Linked DNA regions of Homo sapiens: regions 1, 2, 3, 4 and 5 are each reported to be linked to region 6. Evidence: microRNA targets listed by miRTarBase, many of them from high-throughput screens and not tested one by one. Region 6 holds a microRNA gene; each other region holds the end of a gene's coding sequence.

Evidence for each region. The annotated mature microRNA hsa-miR-3929 reads GAGGCUGAUGUGAGUAGACCACU and lies in region 6 at 1,575-1,597, opposite strand. An mRNA with a match to its seed (bases 2 to 7 or 8) in the 3' UTR can be bound and repressed. Matches are read on the target gene's strand: a 7mer-m8 pairs with bases 2 to 8, a 7mer-A1 pairs with bases 2 to 7 and ends in A, and an 8mer does both.
Region 1: miRTarBase lists MRPS16 as a target of hsa-miR-3929. Seed matches in the 3' UTR shown: 7mer-m8 at 2,019-2,025 and 7mer-m8 at 1,853-1,859.
Region 2: miRTarBase lists HUS1 as a target of hsa-miR-3929. Seed matches in the 3' UTR shown: 7mer-m8 at 1,963-1,969.
Region 3: miRTarBase lists ZNF589 as a target of hsa-miR-3929. Seed matches in the 3' UTR shown: 7mer-m8 at 2,375-2,381.
Region 4: the mRNA of CENPM is a reported target of hsa-miR-3929. The part of its 3' UTR that is shown has no 7-base or 8-base seed match.
Region 5: miRTarBase lists PEX13 as a target of hsa-miR-3929. Seed matches in the 3' UTR shown: 7mer-m8 at 1,701-1,707, 7mer-A1 at 1,099-1,105 and 7mer-m8 at 709-715.

The regions. Positions count from the first base shown.
Region 1 is chr10:73,248,264-73,251,263 of GRCh38, forward strand. It overlaps MRPS16 (mitochondrial ribosomal protein S16), which reads right to left. Exons shown (of 3, transcript NM_016065.4): 3 at 586-2,728. The coding sequence ends at 2,589. It overlaps DNAJC9-AS1 (DNAJC9 and MRPS16 antisense RNA 1), which reads left to right. Exons shown (of 4, transcript NR_038373.1): 2 at 30-187. Among named protein-coding and RNA genes, the nearest start is that of DNAJC9-AS1, 2.4 kb to the left of the region's middle.
Region 2 is chr7:47,962,162-47,965,770 of GRCh38, reverse strand. HUS1 (HUS1 checkpoint clamp component) reads left to right here. Exons shown (of 8, transcript NM_004507.4): 8 at 333-2,483. The coding sequence ends at 415. Among named protein-coding and RNA genes, the nearest start is that of PKD1L1, 16 kb to the right of the region's middle.
Region 3 is chr3:48,267,996-48,271,653 of GRCh38, forward strand. It overlaps ZNF589 (zinc finger protein 589), which reads left to right. Exons shown (of 4, transcript NM_016089.3): 4 at 1-2,995. The coding sequence ends at 791. Among named protein-coding and RNA genes, the nearest start is that of ZNF589, 29 kb to the left of the region's middle.
Region 4 is chr22:41,936,270-41,939,269 of GRCh38, forward strand. CENPM (centromere protein M) reads right to left here. Exons shown (of 6, transcript NM_024053.5): 6 at 2,468-2,927. The coding sequence ends at 2,787. Among named protein-coding and RNA genes, the nearest start is that of CENPM, 9.4 kb to the right of the region's middle. RefSeq lists enhancers at 1-621, 1-242, 283-422, 463-522.
Region 5 is chr2:61,047,792-61,051,449 of GRCh38, reverse strand. PEX13 (peroxisomal biogenesis factor 13) reads right to left here. Exons shown (of 4, transcript NM_002618.4): 4 at 1-2,978. The coding sequence ends at 2,680. Among named protein-coding and RNA genes, the nearest start is that of SANBR, 16 kb to the left of the region's middle.
Region 6 is chr18:35,932,514-35,936,171 of GRCh38, forward strand. MIR3929 (microRNA 3929) reads right to left here and starts at 1,629; the gene lies at 1,575-1,629.

The DNA.
Region 1 (3,000 bases), not on the chromosome of region 6:
GTGATTTTCAAAGCATTTCTCTTTCCCAGATCCAAGATCAAACTCAGCTGAAGTCAGTTCCTCTCAACCTGCCCTGGCATCAAAGTCTCAAAGCAAGTGGGGGCCAACCAGCAACAACCCCAGGGGAGCTTTGACAACCACAGAATTTGAGATGGCTGGTAATCGTTCTCAGAACATAAAACACAAAGTAAGTCGGCACATTGATAGAACCTCCTCTATAAATTTCCTATATCTTAGTCACACACCAGAGTTAAGCCATCTGTCTTTGCTCATTTTTCCCTCTATGGACAACATAATATGTTGGGAAGGGCTTTCCAGGAGGGCATAACCGGGAGATGAATCTTACATCACTGGGCAAGTTTCCACCTCTAGGCCTCAGCTTCCCTATCTGTAAAACGGAGATAATCCTACCTGCCTTCATAATACCTTACAATTGTCACAAATAACCTTGTACACAAAAGGCCTAGGATATATGTAGATGCTTTGCAATATTATCTTTCTTCCAGTTTCTTGTATTTTTTAAGGTATTCAAATACATCTATTTTAACATTTTTCTATATATACATTTGCTACGGAAAATTGAAATCGCACACTGAAATATCCTTTTATTGCAACTCAAATTTTCAAAAACCAGAAAATCAAATTATTATGCTCTAGCCAAATTATGTAATGTTTTCTTTTTCTTTTCTCTGTCACCCAGGCTGGACTGTAGTGGAACAATCACAGTTCACTGCAGCATCGGCCTCCTGGGCTCAAGTGATCTTACTGCCTCAGCTTCCCGAGTAGCTGGAACTATGGGTGAGCAACACCACAGCCAGCTAATTTTTTAAGTTTTTGTAGAGACGGGGTCTTGCTGTGTTGCACAGGCTGGTCTCAAACTCTGGCTTCAAGTGATCCTTCCACCTCAGCCTCCCAAAGTGCTGAGATTACAGGTGTGAGCCACTGCCCCAATGGTATCTTTATATTATTTTTCCTTACAAGTTACTTCAAATTCTTGATGTTGAATTTCATCTCACTGACTTCAGGCTTTTAAAACACATGGGAATACTTGAGACCTAAGAATGGTTGTGAGTCAAATAAAAAAGTAGAACTAAAGTATACTGAAGTTATTCAAATACATTCAAACTATAAAGATCCCTTATAGATTACTGGCATCAAGGTAGGAAGGAAAAGATACAAGAAGTAAAATGCAACACTCATTACAGGTTGTCAACATTATTGGTATACAGTTTATCCTAACACAGAGCAGCCTTCTTAACCTGCTCCATAAAATTACCAGCAAGAAAGAAAAGTACAAGAATAAGGTTCACAGCTGAATTGGCTTGGTGTCCTAATTCCCTATTCCAGTATTCTCAGAAGGATCCCATCTATGATATATGCAGAAATCACAGCCACATTTGAATGGTTCAATCTTGATTCATACTGAACTCCCTTAAGCCCAGCAGTTTCTCATTCTTAAAAGGTAGGTTATTAGAGCCCCAAAGCAATTTTCATAACAAATCTACCTTTGTATATTTAAGAATATGCATTAAGGCTAGGAGTGGTGGCTCACGCCAGTAATCCTAGCACTTTGGGAGGCCGAGGTGGGCAGATCACAAGGTCAGATTGAGACCATCCTGGCCAACACGGTGAAACCCCATCTCTACTAAAAATACAAAAATTTGCCCGGGCGGTGGCTCACGCCTATAATCCCAGCACTTTTGGGAGGCCAAGGCGGGCGGATCACGAGGTCAGGAGATCAAAACCATCCTGGATAACATGGTGAAACCCCATCTCTACTAAAAATACAAAAAAATTAGCTGGGTGTGGTGGTGGGCACCTGTAGTCCCAGCTACTCCTGGGACTACTCGGGAGGCTGAAGCAGGAGAATGGCATGAACCCAGGAGACAGAGCTTGCAGTGAGCCGAGATCGCGCCACTGCACTCAAGCCTGGGCGACAGAGCGAGACTCCTCTCAAAAAAAAAAAAAAAATTAGCTGGGTGTGGTGGTGCATGCTTGTAGCTCCCCGGCTACTCAGGAGGCTGAGGCAGGAGAACCTCTTGAACCCAGGAGGTGGAGATTGCAGTGAGCTGAGATTGCACCACCGCACTCCAGCCTGGCAACAGAACAAGACTCCGTCTCAAAAAAAAAAAAAAAAAGAGAATATGCATTAGGCAAGACAATATAAACCTCCAATTACAAAAATCAATTAAGAAAGGTTAACTGTTCTTGCACTTGTGGGATGAACATGAAGATCTGAATGGGCCATGAATAGTCTGGCTGGGGGTTTTGAAGCAGGAAGTCTTGGAAGCCAGTAAATTGTAAAGTTGTCCAAGAGACCCAGAGCCCAACTCAAAAGTCCAATCCTCCCATAGCCACTGTCTATCCCAAGACAAAGTCGAAAAAAGCTAATTAGTACCCACACCCAGCTCTAAGTCACACAAGAACAAATCTCTCCCTGGGCCCTGTGCAGGCCAGGCCAGAAGAGCAAGGGCAACTCAGGATACTCCATTTATTGAACTCCAAATCTAACAAAATTAAGATCGCTGCAGTGTTTCAAAAGGACCTTGACCTTGTTCCCACTGCTATGCTCACTAAAGTCAGCTCATTTATGTTTCTGTAGCCTCTGTATCTGTAGCTTCTGCATCTGTTTTCTGAGAAGCTAACAGGACTTCACGTGCCCGTTTCCTTCGCAGTCTCTCAGCATTTGTGATCATCATAGGATGCAGAGGGAAAAAGCCAGCAAGACCTAAAAGTAACAGATTTTTCACTTATTATAACACAGTATAAGCCAATGCTTCCCTAGGAACTCTGTCTCACAGAACTGAGGTCTGAGATCTGACCCAGTGCATGGATGCAAACCATGCTCCTCACTTGCCAAACTCTGTACTACTTCTCCCCGGCAAGGAGACAGTGGATGTCTACTTCCCTAACAATATTCCCCTTACTTTAAAAAACGTAAACTGACAGATGGCCATTCAAAACATACTATTCCTATTTTTAGCATAAAATACCAGTCAC
Region 2 (3,609 bases), not on the chromosome of region 6:
CTCCACTCACTGGTGAGGAGCTGCTCTTCGCTGCAGAAGGATGCTCATGTGGGTGAATGTGGTTTGCCAGGAAGCCAGCCTGCTGGGTGTTTTGCCAAGGGCTTGGGCCGCTTCACTTTTCCTCTCCTCGCACAGGGAGCCGCCAGTGCTGGGGCCGTGATGTAGCCTCAGCTGTGGCAGTGAGAGTGAGAGACTGTGGTCTCTGCAGCTGCCTCAGGGAAGACAGATGCCTAAAACAGGAGGTGCAGGCTGGGAAGGCTGTTCTGAAAAAGTAGAGATCAAAATGTGTGTGCTGCACTAGGTCTCTAAAATCATGGCTTTTCTCTTCCCAGATATTGTGAATAACAAGATGGTGCATTTTGATCTGCTTCATGAAGACGTGTCCCTTCAGTATTTCATCCCTGCGCTGTCCTAGCACCCTGTCGCTGGAGTTGGCATGCAGAGACTTTGTCAGGATGGGAGAGGCCGCAGGTGTTGTGTTCTGATCACTGGTCTGTGCCCTCACAGCACCGCACATCGACACACTGTACTTATTTGTCCCTCTCTAACATTTTAACTAAAAGTTGATTCAACAACACACAGTTGGATAAACATATCACTTCATGTTGCTCATGTCTGTTTTGCTTTGTTTTTAAGACACTGAAAAGAAAAGCTAGAATTTATTTATTCAGACTTTAAAGAACAATTTCTCATTGATGTTGTGAAAATCGTCATGTATTTAGACTTGGTGTAGTAGCCAGAATTCGTAAAGCTGTTGCCTGGGAGCTTGGTACTTTCCCTCCAGGCAGAGGCTCTAGCTCAGCACGGCCTGTAGCGCACAGTCAGTCTTGCATTTCAGTGTGTTCACCCCGCTGCTCCTGCCCCTTGGAGCCCAGTGACAGAAAGAACAGCCTCTGTCACCCCGCCGCCACTGCCTTGGTTACTCAGAGCACTGTGGGGTGTCACAGCTGCAGCATTTGGAGTCTCTCTCTTGCTGAGGACTCAAGCCCACCTGAGTCCACTCCCCTCTTGATGCCTAGAGAGCTGGCCCAGCCAACACAGCTCTTAGCTGGGAGCTCCTTCTGCCATTCCAACTAGTTTCTTCCTGGGGCCAGTTTTGGGTTTAGGTTGTAATTCCTTATATTTCTTTCTTCCACAGTGTATCGGATCTGTCGTTCTGGAAAGAAGACCCTTCTATTTAGAGTAGAAACAAACGAAACTTCTAAGGTATCATCTGTGTTAAGTGATGAGACCATATTTCTTTGATGTTTCTGAACATCAAAGCTGATTCAGTACTGGTAGATGTGCTCATTCTCCCTGAAACATACCCATCATATTTCCTATTATAATTACATCTCATTGTCCTGTGGAGGTGGACATGATAAACATTATCTTTTGTTTTCTTGTTTTGTTTTGTTTGAGACGGTCTCATTCTGTCACCCAGACTGGAGTGCAGTGCCACAATCATGGCTCACCGCATTGACCTCCTTGGCTCAAGGCATCCTCCCACCTCAGCTTCCTGACTAGCTGGGACTACTGGTGTGCACCACCACACCCAGCTAATTTTCAATTTTTCATAGAGACAGGGTCTCACTGTGTTGTCCAGGCTGGTCTTGAACTCCTGGGCTCAAGCCACCCGCCCACCTGGGCCTCCCAAAGTGCTGGGATTACAGGCATCAGCCATCACACCCATCCATAAACATTATATTAATGTCACATTACAAAACTGAGACCTAAGTTGCTTAGGATAAAATGAAATTGGAAGACTAGCTAACATGAAAATTTATATTTTGGCTTTTTCATGTTTTTTGATAAAACCAGTGTATTTGAATGATTCTTTTGATGTTTAGTAATGGTTTTTTGTTTGTTTTTTGGTTTTTTTTTTTGAGACGGAGTCTCACTCTGTCGCCAGTCTGGAGTGCTAGTGGCGCGATCTTGGCTTACTGCAGCCTCCACTTCCCAAGTTCAAGCGATTCTCCTGCCTCAGCCTCCCGAGTAGCTGGGACTACAGGCGCATGCCACCACGCCCGGCTAATTTTTGTATTTTTAGTAGAGACGGAGTTTCACTGTGTTGGCCAGGATGGTCTCGATCTCGACCTCGTGATCACCCACCTTGGCCTCTCAAAGTGCTGGGATTACAGGCGTGAGCCACCACGCCTGGCCTATGTTTAATAATGTTGAAATAGGATGGAATATTTTGTTAAATTAACATTTTAAAATTAGAAGACACCGTTTTAATTTTTAAACCCTTCCTCCTCTCATTGTAACGAAATTAATTCCAGCTGCAGTGAGAAAACTTAAAAATCATGATACAAAATGAAACAATATCTGAAAGTAGTTTTATAAAACTGAAATTGCTGTTAAAGAGAATGTGTTAGTGACTTAACCATTTGCTCTATGTGATGTTTATTATCAAATACATATAATTTTGAAGATTTTAATGAATGGCTTAAGATTTTATCTTTGTGTAGAATGTGGCTAAAGAAACCTTAGTTGAGATTCAAGAAGTTGGTGTCTGTTTCTGATTCTTATCACAACTTGCTACTTAGTGTCTACCAAGTCCTCCACCTCTTTGCTCCTCAAAGAGCTGTGAAAAATGATGGCAGGAGCCGGTACAACACCACAGACTTAGAGAAGGGCACAGTGCTGCTTTATTGAATGATCTACCAAGGTAAAATTTTGCCGGGTCAAGAAATAGCAATTTAATCCATTTAAAGGAATGAATATAATTTGAAACATTAACTTATTTCAAGACTAACATCTCAAAGTGTTGAGACCTTTTTTAAAAGAGCTTTCTGGATTTTGAGCATACTTTCACTGGCTGTGATTTATAAGAATTTGTGGTTTGTGGAGTACTGTCCTAAATGCCAGGGTAAAATAAGGCAGTCCCATGCCTTACCTGCCCTGGGCTCAGGGCCTCACATCCTTTTGGTACGCACATCTTTTCTCTTCTCCCTTGTTCTGCTCTCCCGCAGCATATACCTCCTAGCCCCAGGCAATTACTTGTCTAATATCTATCTCTATATATTTGCCTATTCTGGCTTTTAGCTTTTTTTTTTTTTTTCCTGAGGGAGACAGGGTCTGGCTTTGTCCCCCATGCTGGAGTGCAGTGGTACAGTCATGGCTCACTGCAGTCTCAAACTCCTGGGCTTAAGCAGTCCTCCTGCCTCACCCTCCCAAGTAGCTGGAACTACAGGTGTGTGCCACTGCGCCCAGCTAATTTTTATATTGTTTTGTAGATATGAGGTTTTGTACGTTGCCCAGGACTCCTGGGCTTAAGCAGTCTGCCCGCCTCAGCCTCCCAAAGTGCTTGGATCACAGCTGTGAGCCACCACACCCAGCAATTCTTTTTATCCAAGAATTTTATCACCTGAGTTTTGAGGTCATTCTGTGCCATATCAGAGACACTTAAGAATTTCCCATTCCAGTTGCTCCTGGCTAGCATCCAAGTGGCCCTGCCATCCTCCTCCAGCCCTTCCTTGGCCCAGCAGGGAACTGCTTGGCCATCAGGTCTGTAGGCTGAGTTTATAGTGAGGTACTGTGCCTGGTGTGAAGGAGCCCACTCTTGGGGACCTAGAATGTGGCCTCAACAGTAGTCCTGGGGTTGGGATTCTGGTTCAGCCACTAGGC
Region 3 (3,658 bases), not on the chromosome of region 6:
TACACAATCATCCTATTCCAGGTTTCCATGCAGGAAATCAACTCCACCCAGGAAATCCCTGCCCAGAGGATCAGCCACAGTCACAACATCCTTCTGATAAAAATCACAGGGGGGCTGAAGCAGAAGATCAACGAGTGGAAGGAGGCGTCAGACCCTTGTTTTGGAGTACAAATGAAAGGGGGGCTTTAGTGGGTTTCTCTAGCCTGTTCCAGAGACCACCAATAAGCTCTTGGGGAGGCAACAGAATATTAGAGATACAGCTCAGTCCAGCCCAGAATGCAAGCTCTGAGGAAGTAGACAGAATTTCCAAGAGGGCAGAAACCCCAGGGTTTGGAGCAGTCACGTTTGGGGAGTGTGCACTAGCTTTTAACCAGAAGTCAAACCTGTTCAGACAGAAGGCAGTCACAGCAGAAAAATCTTCAGACAAAAGGCAGTCACAGGTGTGCAGGGAGTGTGGGCGAGGCTTTAGCAGGAAGTCACAGCTCATCATACACCAGAGGACACACACAGGAGAAAAGCCTTATGTCTGCGGAGAGTGTGGGCGAGGCTTTATAGTTGAGTCAGTCCTCCGCAACCACCTGAGTACACACTCCGGGGAGAAACCTTATGTGTGCAGCCATTGTGGGCGAGGCTTTAGCTGCAAGCCATACCTCATCAGACATCAGAGGACACACACAAGGGAGAAATCGTTTATGTGCACAGTGTGTGGGCGAGGCTTTCGTGAAAAGTCAGAGCTCATTAAGCACCAGAGAATTCACACGGGGGATAAGCCTTATGTGTGCAGAGATTGAGGCCGAGGCTTTGTAAGGAGATCATGTCTCAACACACACCAGAGGATACATTCAGATGAGAAGCCTTTTGTTTGCAGAGAGTGTGGGCGAGGCTTTCGTGCTAAATCAACTCTCCTCCTACACCAGTGGACACATTCAGAGGTGAAACCTCACGTGTGTGAGGAGTGTGGGCATGGATTTAGCCAGAAGTCGTCGCTCAAATCACATCGGAGAACACACTCAGGGGAGAAGCCTTATGTGTGTGGGGAATGTGGGCGGGGATTTAGCCGGAGGATAGTCCTCAATGGACACTGGAGGACACACACGGGAGAGAAGCCTTACACGTGCTTTGAGTGTGGGCGAAACTTTAGCCTCAAGTCCGCTCTTAGTGTACATCAGAGGATACACTCTGGGGAGAAGCCTTATGCATGCACGGAGTGTGGGCAAGGCTTTATCACGAAATCACAGCTCATCAGACACCAGAGGACACACACAGGAGAAAAGCCTTATGTCTGCGGAGAGTGTGGGCGAGGCTTTATAGCTCAGTCAACCCTCCACTACCACCGGAGTACACACTCCAAGGAAAAACCTTATGTGTGCAGCCAGTGTGGGCGAGGCTTTTGTGATAAATCAACTCTCCTCGCACACGAGCAGACACATTCAGGGGAGAAGCCTTATGTGTGTGGGGAATGTGGGCGGGGATTTGGCCGGAAGATACTCCTCAACAGACACTGGAGGACACACACAGGAGAGAAACCTTACGCATGCATCGAGTGTGGGCGAAACTTTAGCCACAAGTCCACTCTCAGCTTACATCAGAGGATACACTCGGGGGAGAAGCCTTATGCATGCGTGGAGTGTGGGCAAAGCTTTAGGAGAAAGTCACAGCTCATCATACACCAGAAGATACACTCGGGGAAAAGCTTTAGAGGTGCAAGGAGTGAGGATGTGATTTTAGCAACAAGTCAGCCATCAGCCACACCAGCGGAAATGCTTAGGGAGAAGCCTTGTTTGTAAGGTAATGTGGACAGAGCTGTACGTGGACATCATTACTTGTCACGTGTCAGAGGACACACTCGGGAGAAACCTTCATGGAGTGAGAGTAAGGTGTTGGCTGGAAGTGGCCCCTTAAGAGATACTTGGAGTCAAATCTATCCACTGTACGCCCACCCCACTCTTGTTCTAAGAGCTTTGGGGACAGTCTTTTGACCCCTTACATTCCTTTAGATGTGAAGATGACAGAGATCTAACTTCTGAGAGCAGAGGTGTCAAGTGACGGTCCCCTTGGAGGAATGGTCTTTGCATCTGACTACTTCCTTCTGCAACTGTGTTCTTCCATTAGCTTCCATGACACTCTCCTGCTTTATTTTTTTCTACATCTCTAGCCTTTGCTGTTTCCTCTCCTACCCCACCTTTAGATTTTACTCAGAGTTCAGTCTCCAGCCCTACAATCTGAGGGACACCTTTACCAGGTCCCCTTCCTAACCCTCCAGTCCCAAATCCAAGATTCTTTAACCACACTCTAAAAGTTCTTCAGACTCAGGACTTAAACATAGCCACGCCACCTTGGCCTTCAATGACAGGGATCTAGCAATGCTGCATCATCAGCCTTCCAATACCAGGTTTAAGGGTATTTTAAACACAGCTCCTCTTAAATCCTCCAATCTCAGTACCCAGTGTTTTAGCCATGCTCGGGTGGCTAAATTACATCCAGGAATGGTGCCAGGGCCTTTAGCCATTTGTCTCTCCTCACACTCCAGGGCCCATATGGCCCAGGTTCTGACAGTTTGCCTTACTCCCTTGGGCTGGGGCTAGCCCTACCTGATACCCTGTGTCAATGAGTGTACCTTGGAGAGCTATCCACTCAGGCCCCAGTGCCTCTATTTGCTAAGGGACTCTGCCACAGAAAAGAAGGGGAGAGATGTTCATGTAACCTCAAAATACTTAGGCTTGGTTTTGATGCTAGAGAGGAAAAAGGACTTGGAGAGAGAGAAGGAATGGCTGGTCCAGAGGCTTTTGTCCACTCCCTCTCACTGGAAGTGGTTGATCTCCAGGGAATCCCCAAGGTTAGCCTGCTTAGGGGAAGGGCTAGGGGTACCTGGAATGTAGGATCTCCCCCATGCCTGGCCTACCACCCTAATGTGTCTGGAATTGGTGGGTTCTTGGTCTTGCTGACTTCAAGAATGAAGCCGTGGACCCTCACGGTGAGTGTTACAATTCTTAAACATGGTGTGTCTGGAGTTTGTTCCTTCTGATGTTCGGACGTGTCCAGAGTTTCTAACTTCTGGTGGGTTTGTGGTCTCGCTTAGGAGTGAAGCTGCAGACCTTAGCAGTGTTACGGCTCTTAAAGGCAGCGCATCTGGAGTTGTTAGTTCCTTCCGGTGGGTTCGTGGTCTTGCTGGTTTCAGGAGTGAAGCTGCGGACCTTTGCGGTTAGTGTTACAGCTCTTAAAGGCGGCGCGGACCCAAAGAGTGACCAGCAGGAAGATTTATTGTGAAGAGTGAAAAAACAAAGCTTCCACAGCATGGAAGGGGACCTGAGTGGCTTGCCGCTGCTGGCTCGGGTAGCCTGCTTTTATCCCCTTATCCGGCCCCACCCACATCCTGCTGATTGGTCCATTTTACAGAGAGCATATTGGTCCGTTTTGACAGGGTGCTGATTGGTGCATTTACAATCCCTGAGCTAGACACAGAGTGCTGATTGGTGCATTTACAAGCCTCTAGCTAGACAAAAATTTTCCAAGTCCCCACTAGATTAGCTAGACACGCGTTTACAAACCTTTAGCTAGACACAGTGCTGATTGGTGCGTTTACAATCCTTTAGCTAGACACAAGTTCTCCAAGTCCCCGCTAGATTAGCTAGACACAGAGCACTGATTGGTGCGTTTA
Region 4 (3,000 bases), not on the chromosome of region 6:
CCTCCCATGACAACGGTCTGTTTCATGAACTGTGAATTGGGGAAACATCATCTACCTCACAGGTCTGCTGTGTGAGAAGAGCTCTGTGAAGCATGACGTGCCTGCAAATGTCGGGTGACATGTGGGGCCTCGACCGGAATCTACGTGGCTGAAGTCCTCAGCGGAGCCCAAGGGACTGCCAGGAAGTCAGCCAGGTGTCTACAAACCCTTACTGAGCACTAGGGGTGGGGCCTGAGCTAAGTTCCAGAAGGAACCTACAGAAAGGGGCAGATAGGGCCGCATCCCCGACACCTACAAGGAGTTAGAAGGCGGCCCACCCCTCAGTGAAGGGCATGGGCCCAGCTGCGATGGTGACATCAAAGCAGAGAGGCCTTAGGCCGGCCGCGGTGACTCTCACACCTGTAATCCCAGCACTTTGGGAGGCCAAGGGTGGCAGATCACGTGAGGTCAGGAGTTTGAGACCAGCCTGGCCAACATGGCGAAACCTGTGTCTACTAAAAATACAAAAATTAGCTGGGCATGGTGGCGTGCACCTGTAATCTCAGCTGCTCGGGAGGCTGAGGCAGGAGAATCACTTGAACCAGGGAGCAGAGGCTGCAGTGAGTTGAGATCACGCCACTGCACTCCAGCCTGGGCGACAGAGCAAGACTCCACACCCCACCAACCAAAAAAAAAGAAAAAAGCAGACAGGCCCCGAGGTGCTGGTGCAGTGCTGCCCAGGGCTTCAACTGGGGTCCATCCTGAGGCCTGAGGCTGGTGGGCATGCCCTGGCACATGCAGGGTGAATGTGGGGAGGGCACTGTCATGTTCCAAGGGAGTCAGGACCTGGCTCTCTATGGGATTTCTAGAGTCCACTTCTGATGCCTCTACAATCTCCAATTAGACCCAAGGGAGAAGGAAAGCAACTGGCACTGTACAATCTCTCGCCATCAACCCCAAAATGAGACCTCCAGCCAGCTTTTCTCACTTCTTGCAAACTTCTGACAGTGGTGTAATTCCTAATTTGCACCAGTTTTTGAACTCCGCTGTGTGATTTCTTTTTTGGAGATAGAGTCTCGCTCCGCTGCCTGGGCTGAAGTGCAGTGGTACGATCTCAGCTCACTGCAACCTCCGCCTCCTGGGTTCAAGCAATTTTCCTGCCTCAGCCTCCCAAGTAGCTGGGACTATAGGCACAGACTGCCATGCCCGGCTAATTTTCTGTATTTTAGTGGAGACGGGGTTTCACCGTGTTGCCAGGCCAGCCACAAACTCCTGAGCTCAGGCAATCCGCCCGCCTCGGCTTTCCATGTGATTTCAAATAGTTACTGTTCACTGAGTGCCTACCTAGCAAGGTGCAAGGCATTAACACATGTTATGAACACAGCAACCTACTCGCAGGCATGGGGGGTCACACAGTCCCAGGCATGTCCATCGTCTCATTCAATCCTCCCAACGTGACAAGGTGAGCAGAACCTCATCTCCATTCACATCTGAGAAAACAAGCTCCAAGAGGCAACAACCAGGTTCTATAATAGCAGGGCCAGGATGTGGAGTCTGACTGGCATAACGAGTCCAAGCTCCCCTTACCCCGCCCCACTCCTTTTTTTTTCTTTGAGACAGAGTCTCGCTCTGTCGCCCAGGCTGGAGTGCAGTGGCGCGATCTCAGCTTACTGCAAGCTCCGCCTCCCAGGTTCATGCCGGTCTTCTGCCTCAGCCTCCCAAGTAGCTAGGACTACAGATGCCCGCCACCATGCCTGGCTAATTTGTTTGTATTTTTAGTAGAGGCAGAGTTTCACTGTTAGCCAGGATGGTCTCGATCTCCTGACCTTGTGATCTGCCCGCCTCGGCCTCCCAAAGTGCTGGAATTATAGGTGGGAACCACCGCGCCCAGCATTTTTTTTTTTTTTTTTTGAGACGGAGTCTCGCTCTGTTGCCCAGGCTGGAGTGCAGTGGTGTAATCTCGGTTCAACACCACCTCCGCCTCCCAGGTTCAAGTGATTCTCCTGCTTCAGCCTCCCGAGTAGTTGAGACTACAGGCCTGCATCACCATGCCTGGCTAATTTTTGTATTTTTAGTAGAGACAGGGTTTCACTATGTTGGCCAGGCTGGTCTCGCTTTTTTTTTTTTTTTTTTTTGAGGTGGAGTCTCACTGTGTTGCCCAGGCTGGAGTGCAGTGGCACAGTCTCAGCTCACTGCAACCTCCGCCTCCCGGGTTCAAGTGATTCTCCTGCCTCAGCCTCCTGAGTAGCTGGGACTACAGGCGCCCACCACCACATCTGGCTAATTTTTGTATTTTTGTAGAGACAGGGATACACCATGTTGGCCAGGATGGTCTCGAATTCCTGACTTCAAGTGATCCACCCACCTCGGCCTCCCAAAGTGCTGGGATTACAGGCGTGAGCCTCTGCACCTGGCCCACCCTGCCCTACTCTTAATTGTTCTGAGTCAGTTTCCTCATCTACAAAGTCAAAGTGGTGAATGAGACCAGTGATTTTTAAACTTTTTTTAGCCACAGACCTTTTGTTCAAAGGAAACCTTAAATGGAGATGTAACACGCCAGCTGCTTAAAGACACAGGCTCTGCAAGAGTGAGTGTGGGAGTGGGAGGGGGCTACAGTCTCGCCAGCTGGGCCCCCTCGCTGCTTCTGCCCAGCTCTCCCTGCTGCAGCACTGGCACTGCAGGGAACCTTCCCAGCCACGGCGGGCTGAGCCTGGGCCTGTCAAGCCCTGACTGGACATCCTCAACAGAGAATGTTTATGGAGTCAGCACGAAGCCATGAGAAGGGGCAGCCCAGGGGCCAGCCACCCTCACAGGTCCTCCAGGGAGGGGCCCTCAGAGCTTCTCAGCAGGGACAGCAGGTTCAGAGCTGAGACACCGGGCACGTGGCCAGCACAGATCTGCAGCACGCGCACCAGGCGCTGCGCCATGGTGGCCCTAAAGCCTTCCACCTGCGGGGAGAGCAGAGAACAGCAGTGAGATAGAATGCTGGCCCTGCTCCCTTACCCAGAGCAGCTGCAGGGG
Region 5 (3,658 bases), not on the chromosome of region 6:
TTAACCAAACAATAAACACCCCTACAAAAGTGTCACTATTTTATCACTTTGTGCTGTACTCTTCTCCCTATACATCTTTAATAGTGGTCACTTCTACTTTACTTCTAGCATTCAATTTAGACATCTCAACCCCAAATTTAATAATCTGTTTTATCAAACATTTGTTTTGAGAACAAAATTTCTATAAATTATCTGACAAATCAAAGCAGAACCTTTAATTGTAGAACACAAATGAAAAATAATATACAAGAAACCTTATCTCTTCAACTTCAAGGCTAATACCTGGGTGTTGGAAAACTGGCCAAAGATAAATAAATTTTACTATATTTATTTTTCTGCACTGGGTCAAGATTTCTATTATAAATGATATGTTACTTACGATACTGTCGTTTCAAAAAAGGGCTTTCCAAGAAGCCTTTAGTAAAGTTCTTCTATGCTGGGTATGTACTTGGTTCCTGTATGTTTTAATCTGAACTATTCGAGAATTACTTATTTGTTGAACATAGTCTATTAGAAAAAAATACTAAATCGCTGGGTGCGGTGGCTCACGCCTGTAATCCCAACACTTTGGGAGACCGAAGCGGGCTCATCACGAGGTCAGGAGATGGAGACCATCCTGGGTAACACGGTGAAACCCCGTCTCTACTAAAAATACAAAAAAAATTAGCCGGGCCTGGTGGCAGGCGCCTGTAGTCCCAGCTACTCGGGAGGCTGAGGCAGGAGAATGGCGTGAACCCGGGAGGCGGAGCTTGCAGTGAGCCGAGATCGCGCCACTGGACTCCAGCCTGGGCGACAGAGTGAGACTCCGTTTCAAAAAAAGACAAAAGAAAAAATACTAAATCACAATTTTTATCAAACAGTTCAAAGTTTTCAACAATATCTATAAATGTATTCTTATACACCTGTATTCCTGATAGTATTACTCTGTAGTATGTTCGTAGCCAAGTATATGAAGTTTCCAATTTTCTGGGGAAATATTCAGTGTACTGAAAGTTAACTGCATTTAAAATCATTATAAACCAAAAAACACGTCAAATAGCATTATCGTATTATTATTTTTTGTTTGTTTGTTTTGAGACAGAGTCTTGCTCTGTCCCCTAGGCTGGAGTGCAGTGGCATGATCTCAGCTCCCTGCAACCTCTGCCTCCCGGGTTCAAGTGATTCTCCTGCCTCAGCCTCCTGAGTAGCTGGGACTACAGGTGCACGCCACTGCACCCAGCTAATTTTCGTATTTTTAGTAGAGACAGGGTTTCACCGTGTTGGCCAGGCTGGTCTCAAACTCCTGACCGCAGGTGATCCGCCCGCCTTGGCCTCCCAAAGTGCTGAGATTAAAGGCATGAGGATTATCATATTCTAAATGGCAATAGAGCACTAAGACTATAAATAAGTCTCAGTAGTAAAAACTAAACCTAAAAGAAAAATGTATCCAATGTGACACATTTTCAATATTTACAGAGCATCCTAAATATGGAATTTAAAAAATTACACAAGGTAGAAGCAAACAATCTATGAAAATATTAAAAATTACTATTATAACTGATTATATCATTAAGTGCAAACTCAAAAGAACTCAAGTATTTGTTGTAGGAAAAGAAAGTATACCTTTCATATACTTCTGATTCACCCAGTATGAAAACTAGTCATATTTTAAAGAAATAAATAATTTTATTTTTTGAGATGGAGTTTCGCTTTTGTTGCCCAGGCTGAAGTGCAATGGCGAGATCTCCGGCTCAGCGTAACCTCCGCCTCCTGGGGTTCAAGCAATTCTCCTGCCTCAGCCTCCCGAGTAGCTGGGATTACAGGCATGTGCCACCACACCTAGCTAATTTTGTATTTTTCGTAAAGATGGGGTTTCTCCATGTTGGTCAGGGTGGTCTTGAACTCCCAACCTCAGGTGATCTGCCCGCCTCAGCCTCCCAAAGTGCTGGGATTACAGGCGTGAGCCACCATGCCTGGCTTAAAGAGATAAATAATTAAGGGATCCTTAGAAGAAATGGAACAGTTTGTAAGAAAGATAAATTTCAGACTTTTTGCTAGGAGGGAAAACTATTAGGGCTACATACTCTATAATTCTAGAACCATTTCCTTCAGAATGCTTCTGGGTGACCTTTTCAAATTAAATTTTTAAAAATACAGTAAAAGATAGCAGTGTCAGTTGTTTGTGGGTGAAAATATAAACCCAACACTGGATATAATACAGATCAGAAAATTTTATTATTGAGATTACTTAAGGTTGTAAAAAAAAAAAAAAATTTACCTTTTGCCTGTTCTCATACTGACATGTCACCACTCCATTTCTAAGGATTCCAAGTCAATTAATGCAGAACTTTTAAAAGTATTAATGATCTCTACTGTACCAAACTGTGCATGCTATAGTTCATCAATCTTACTCTTCCAATAAACCTAGAGATTTAAATAAGATAAAAATGACAGCAGTCTCCATAATCTTAAAATCTAGGTGAAACAAATGTCCTTATGGTCCAATAATGTGTATAATAAAATGTAACCAGGTCACCAGACCAACATACTAGTGTGTAACTTTAATAATTTCTAGCAGCAAAACACCTGAAATAGCCAATAACAAATGTTTTCATTGGATTGTACATTCATTTCTTTGTGAGAAATAATTTTAAAAAGTACTCTAAAGTATTGTTCAACTGCAGGCAAACATGAAAGATATCAAAGATCTTGCTTTTCTCCATCTTTCCCAATGGAATCAGGTGCAACTGGAACCTTATTAGTTTCAACAAAAACAGATTCAAAGGCAGCTTCCTGTTCATCCAAAGAATCAGCAACCGTGGCTCCTTTAGTTAGTGTTGGGTTGGTAAAAGATTGTTGCTGCTTGGAAACTTTACTTGATTCCACCGTTTTCCTACCTTTTCTTTTGCCAAGAATTTTGACATAATTCGCAGGTATAAGTCCTGTTGTTTGGCCATCAAGGCTAGCCAGAAGCCAACCACGCACTTTGGGTTGTTGTTCTGATGGAAAAAAAAGACAGTCTTGTAATTACAATATACTTTGGAGGTCCAACAGAATAGTAATGGTAAAATATCACATTCAGGAAAATCTGTTATGCTTACATAGTAGATAACAAATAGTACATGCATATATATTCAAAATCAAATGCTGAGTAGGCTTAACAGTTCTAGGGTCCATTCTTCTATTTTTATTTTATACTTACTAAATATTTCCTTCCACCTTGAAGAACATAAAGTTTATTATCAGTTGGTCCATTCATAGAGTAGGGAGATTTAGTTCTCTCAAAACTGAAAACTAACATCAATGTCTTTCATATTTTAAACTGGAGTCTAAAAAATGAATATCTTATTCCTTCTCAACTGGGTAAGTTAGGAATAAGTATAGAAAAGATATACCTTTAATGCACTCAGCTTTCTTAGCCTACTTTTGGCAAAAATATAAAATTCGTTTCATGTGATTGTAATAAACAATCCTGAAGACAGTAAATATTAATTTCAATCCAAGATGGGCAAAAAATTGAAGACCTTTGTTATTTCTAGCCATATGATAAATAAAGGCAATACTCTAAGCTTAAAGAAAGATTATTTAATGTACTCAATTTTCTATTGTATTTTCCTATTTTATCTATATCTTTAAAAAGCTGCTTAACTGTTACAATTTTAGTTCAACATTATAATTT
Region 6 (3,658 bases):
GAGGCCTATATAAATTTGATACCAAAAAACTAGCAAATATATTACAATAAAAGAAAACTACAGAATATCCCTCATGAACCTAAACAAACTACTAGCAAATCAAATACAAAAATACATGCAAAAGTTCATATTCCATGAAGAAGTAGGTGTATCACAAGAGTGCAATGTTGATTTAACATATTAAATTGTCAATGTAATCCACCATATTAACAAAACGAAAGAGAAGACAAATATGTAATCATTTCATAAGCAGAAACATTATTTCCCTAAGTTCAACTGCCATTTATGATAATGGTGAAATATTGTCCTCTTTTATTATCAAGAACAAGCTAAAAATGTTTACTGTCACCACTTCTGTTCAACATTGTACTGGAGGTCCTAGGCAGTAAAATAAAACAAAATGAAATAATAGGCATAAAGATTGAAAATTAAGAAGTAAAACTCCCTTTGTGTATAAATGACATCATTGTTTGCAAAGAGAATCCTGAGGAATTTATGTAAAAATAGCAAGGTCACAGAATACAAGATCAATCTGAAAAAATCAATTATATTTCGATTTACTACCAGCAAAAAAAAAGTTTAAAAACCAATTTTATTTATAATGATATCTAGAACATTAAATACTTAGAAATAAGGTTAACAAAAGGTATTTAATAACTCTATGCAGAAAACTATGAATTTAGAAGACCTAAATACATGGAGAGGCATTTCATGTTCATAAGTTGAAAAACCCAATGCTTTTATAATATACAGTCTCCTCAGATTGATCTATAGATTCAATGCAATCTGACTGATAATTAGGTCAAGTTTTCAGAGAAACTGACATATTGATTCTGACATTTATATGGAAATACTAAGGTCCTAGGATCTCTAAATTAATACTGACAAGACAGAATATGAGGACTTCCACAACCTGAGTTTGAGGCTCCAGTAGCCAAGCTAATGTACACAAAGCAAGTTTATGCAAATACATGAATAAAACACAACAGGCAGCCTAGACCTAGACTCACACCTATAAGGTTACTTAATGACTGACAAAGCCACCGAAGCTCCAATGGGAAAAGTAAGCGCTTTTCTAGAAATGATGCTGGAAAAATAGATATCCATATGGGGAAGAAAATGAATCTCAATTCCTATCTCAACTCATGCACAAAATTAATTCAATATGGATGATAGACCTAAACATAATACAGCTAAAATTATAGTAGTCCCCCTTTAACCACAGTTTTGCTTTCCATGGTTTCAGTTACCCTCAGCCAACCAAAGGGACATGTGGCTCATCATCCACTCACATCCAAAAAACTAAAAGAGAAATTTTAGAAATAAATAATTCATCCCTTTTTAAAAAAATTTTTTTGAGACAGAATCTCACTCTGTCACCCAGGCTGGAGTGCAATGGCGCAGTCTTGGCTCACTGCAGCCTTGGTCTCTCAGGCTCAAGCAATCCTCCAACCTCAGCCCCCTGAGTATCTGGGACTATAGACATGCACCACCACGCCTGGTTAATTTTTGTATTTTTTGTAAAGATAGGAGTTCGCCATGTTGCCCAGGCTGGTCTTGAACTCCCGGGCTCAAGTGGTCTACTCACATCAGCCTCCCAAAGTGCTGGGATTACTGGTGTGAGCCACTGCACCTGGCCAACTCATACGTTTTAAATTGTGTGCTGTTCTGAGTAGCATGATGAAATCTCAGGCCATCTGTCCCGTCCCTCCTAGGATGTGAATCATCCCTTTGTCTCGTGGATCTACACTGTAGATGCTACCTGCCTATGGGTCATTTAGTAGCCATCTGGGTTATCAGATCAACTGCCGTGACATCACAGTGCTGATGTTCAAGTAACCCTTATTTTAGTTCGTAATGGCCCCAGTGTGCAAGAATAGTGGTGCTGGCATATCATTATAATTGTCTGTTTTATTATAATTTGCTGTAATCTCTTCCTGTGCCTAATTTATAAATTAAACTTTATAATAATATAATATTATATATAATATAATATAATTTATAAATTAAACTTTATAATAATACATATAGGAAAACAACACAGTATATATACAGTTCTTTAGTATCCATGGTTTCAGGTATCCACTGGGGGGTCTTGGAATATGTCCCCAGCAGATAAGCAGGGTATACTATATAGAACTGTCAGGAGAAAAATATTTGAAACCTGAGAATAGGCAAAGATTTCATAGGTCACAATTATAATGATATGCCAGCATCACTTGTCCATGACAAGGTGCTTTACAGAGGCCATTGTCTCCTTTTAGCTAGGCAGTGAAAAGCACATTACAAGTAAAGAAAACAGCAGTTTTCTTAGACTGTTTACTTTGCAATAAAGGAATACCTGAAACTGGGTAATTTATAAAGAACAGGGGTTTATTTGGCTCATGCTTCTGCAGCCTATACAGGAAGCATAGGGCCTCAGAAGCTTCCAATCATGGCAGCAGGTGAAGGGGAGCCAGTATATCACGTAGTGAGAGAGGGAGCAAGAGAGAGAAGGAAGTCTCAGGCTCTTTTAAATAACCAGATCTTGGGCGAATTGGTAGAGCAAGAACTCCCTCATTACTGCAAGGATGGCACCAGGCCACTCAAGAGGGATCCACCCCTGTGATGCAAACACCTCCCACTAGGCCCACCTCCAACATTGGGGTTGCCATTCCAACGTGAGATTTGTAGGGCACAAGTATCCAAACTATATCAATGTCCTCTGAGTGTGTGTGTGTGCACGCGTGAACTCATGGGGTTTCTTATTCTCATAAATTCTGGCAGTCCTCTATTAATTACTTACTTCAGACACAAATTATAACCAGATATGGGACAATATAGTTACTAGGGAAAAAAGTTTACTTTCTAAAAAGAATTGGCATATTCTTTGGTTAATTAAGAGGAGAAAGTATCCAGAACCCTTTTCCAGTTCTCTTTGCAGAAGCGTATAATTGCTTTAAGGGTCTTTCTGGCGAAAAGTGATTAGAGGATACATTCCGCCAAGCACCAGGCTGCTCCCTCGGCATGTCCCCCACTTCTGCTGATGCACTAACGTGTCTCAAATCAGTTGCCAATTGGCAGGTGAATCCTATAAAACTGCAAACCTCTGGTGGAGAAACATTATATAAAAGGAATGTAATTGCAGGAAGCTTTCCACCTGCCCCATTCTAGAGGCATCGCAAAGCAGATTTTGTCTAAAGGCTTACCAGAAAGTGAGAGGGCTCCAAAAGGACTTAGAAGGCCCATCAAGCACAACCTGGCATTGTTCATCCCTAATAATTATATGTGCAGAGTTTTATAGTAGCTCTTCTCCTAGTGGTTCTTTTCATCAGCCTTGTCAATGGAGTGAGAATAAACCTCCCTTCCTGTCTGCCACCCCACCCCACCCCCACTGTGAAGCACCTGGGTTTTGTGTGGGGTTGACTCCCCCGTGCATCCCAGCATCAGCCCGGGCCTGACCAGTCTAGCCCAATCAGGGCATCCCCCACTCCCCTTGCTGTGGTATTTTGTTCAGGGATGAACTCCTGCAGAGAGAGTATGTCTTCATCAGAGACAACTGGCAGGCCTGCCCTGCCGAGGAAAGCCAGCCTGAAGACAAAGCCCACACAGGGCAAGAGAAACTAAGAGAAGTTAAGACAGAACCAGAACCCTGATCAAACCACACCTGGAGCCCACC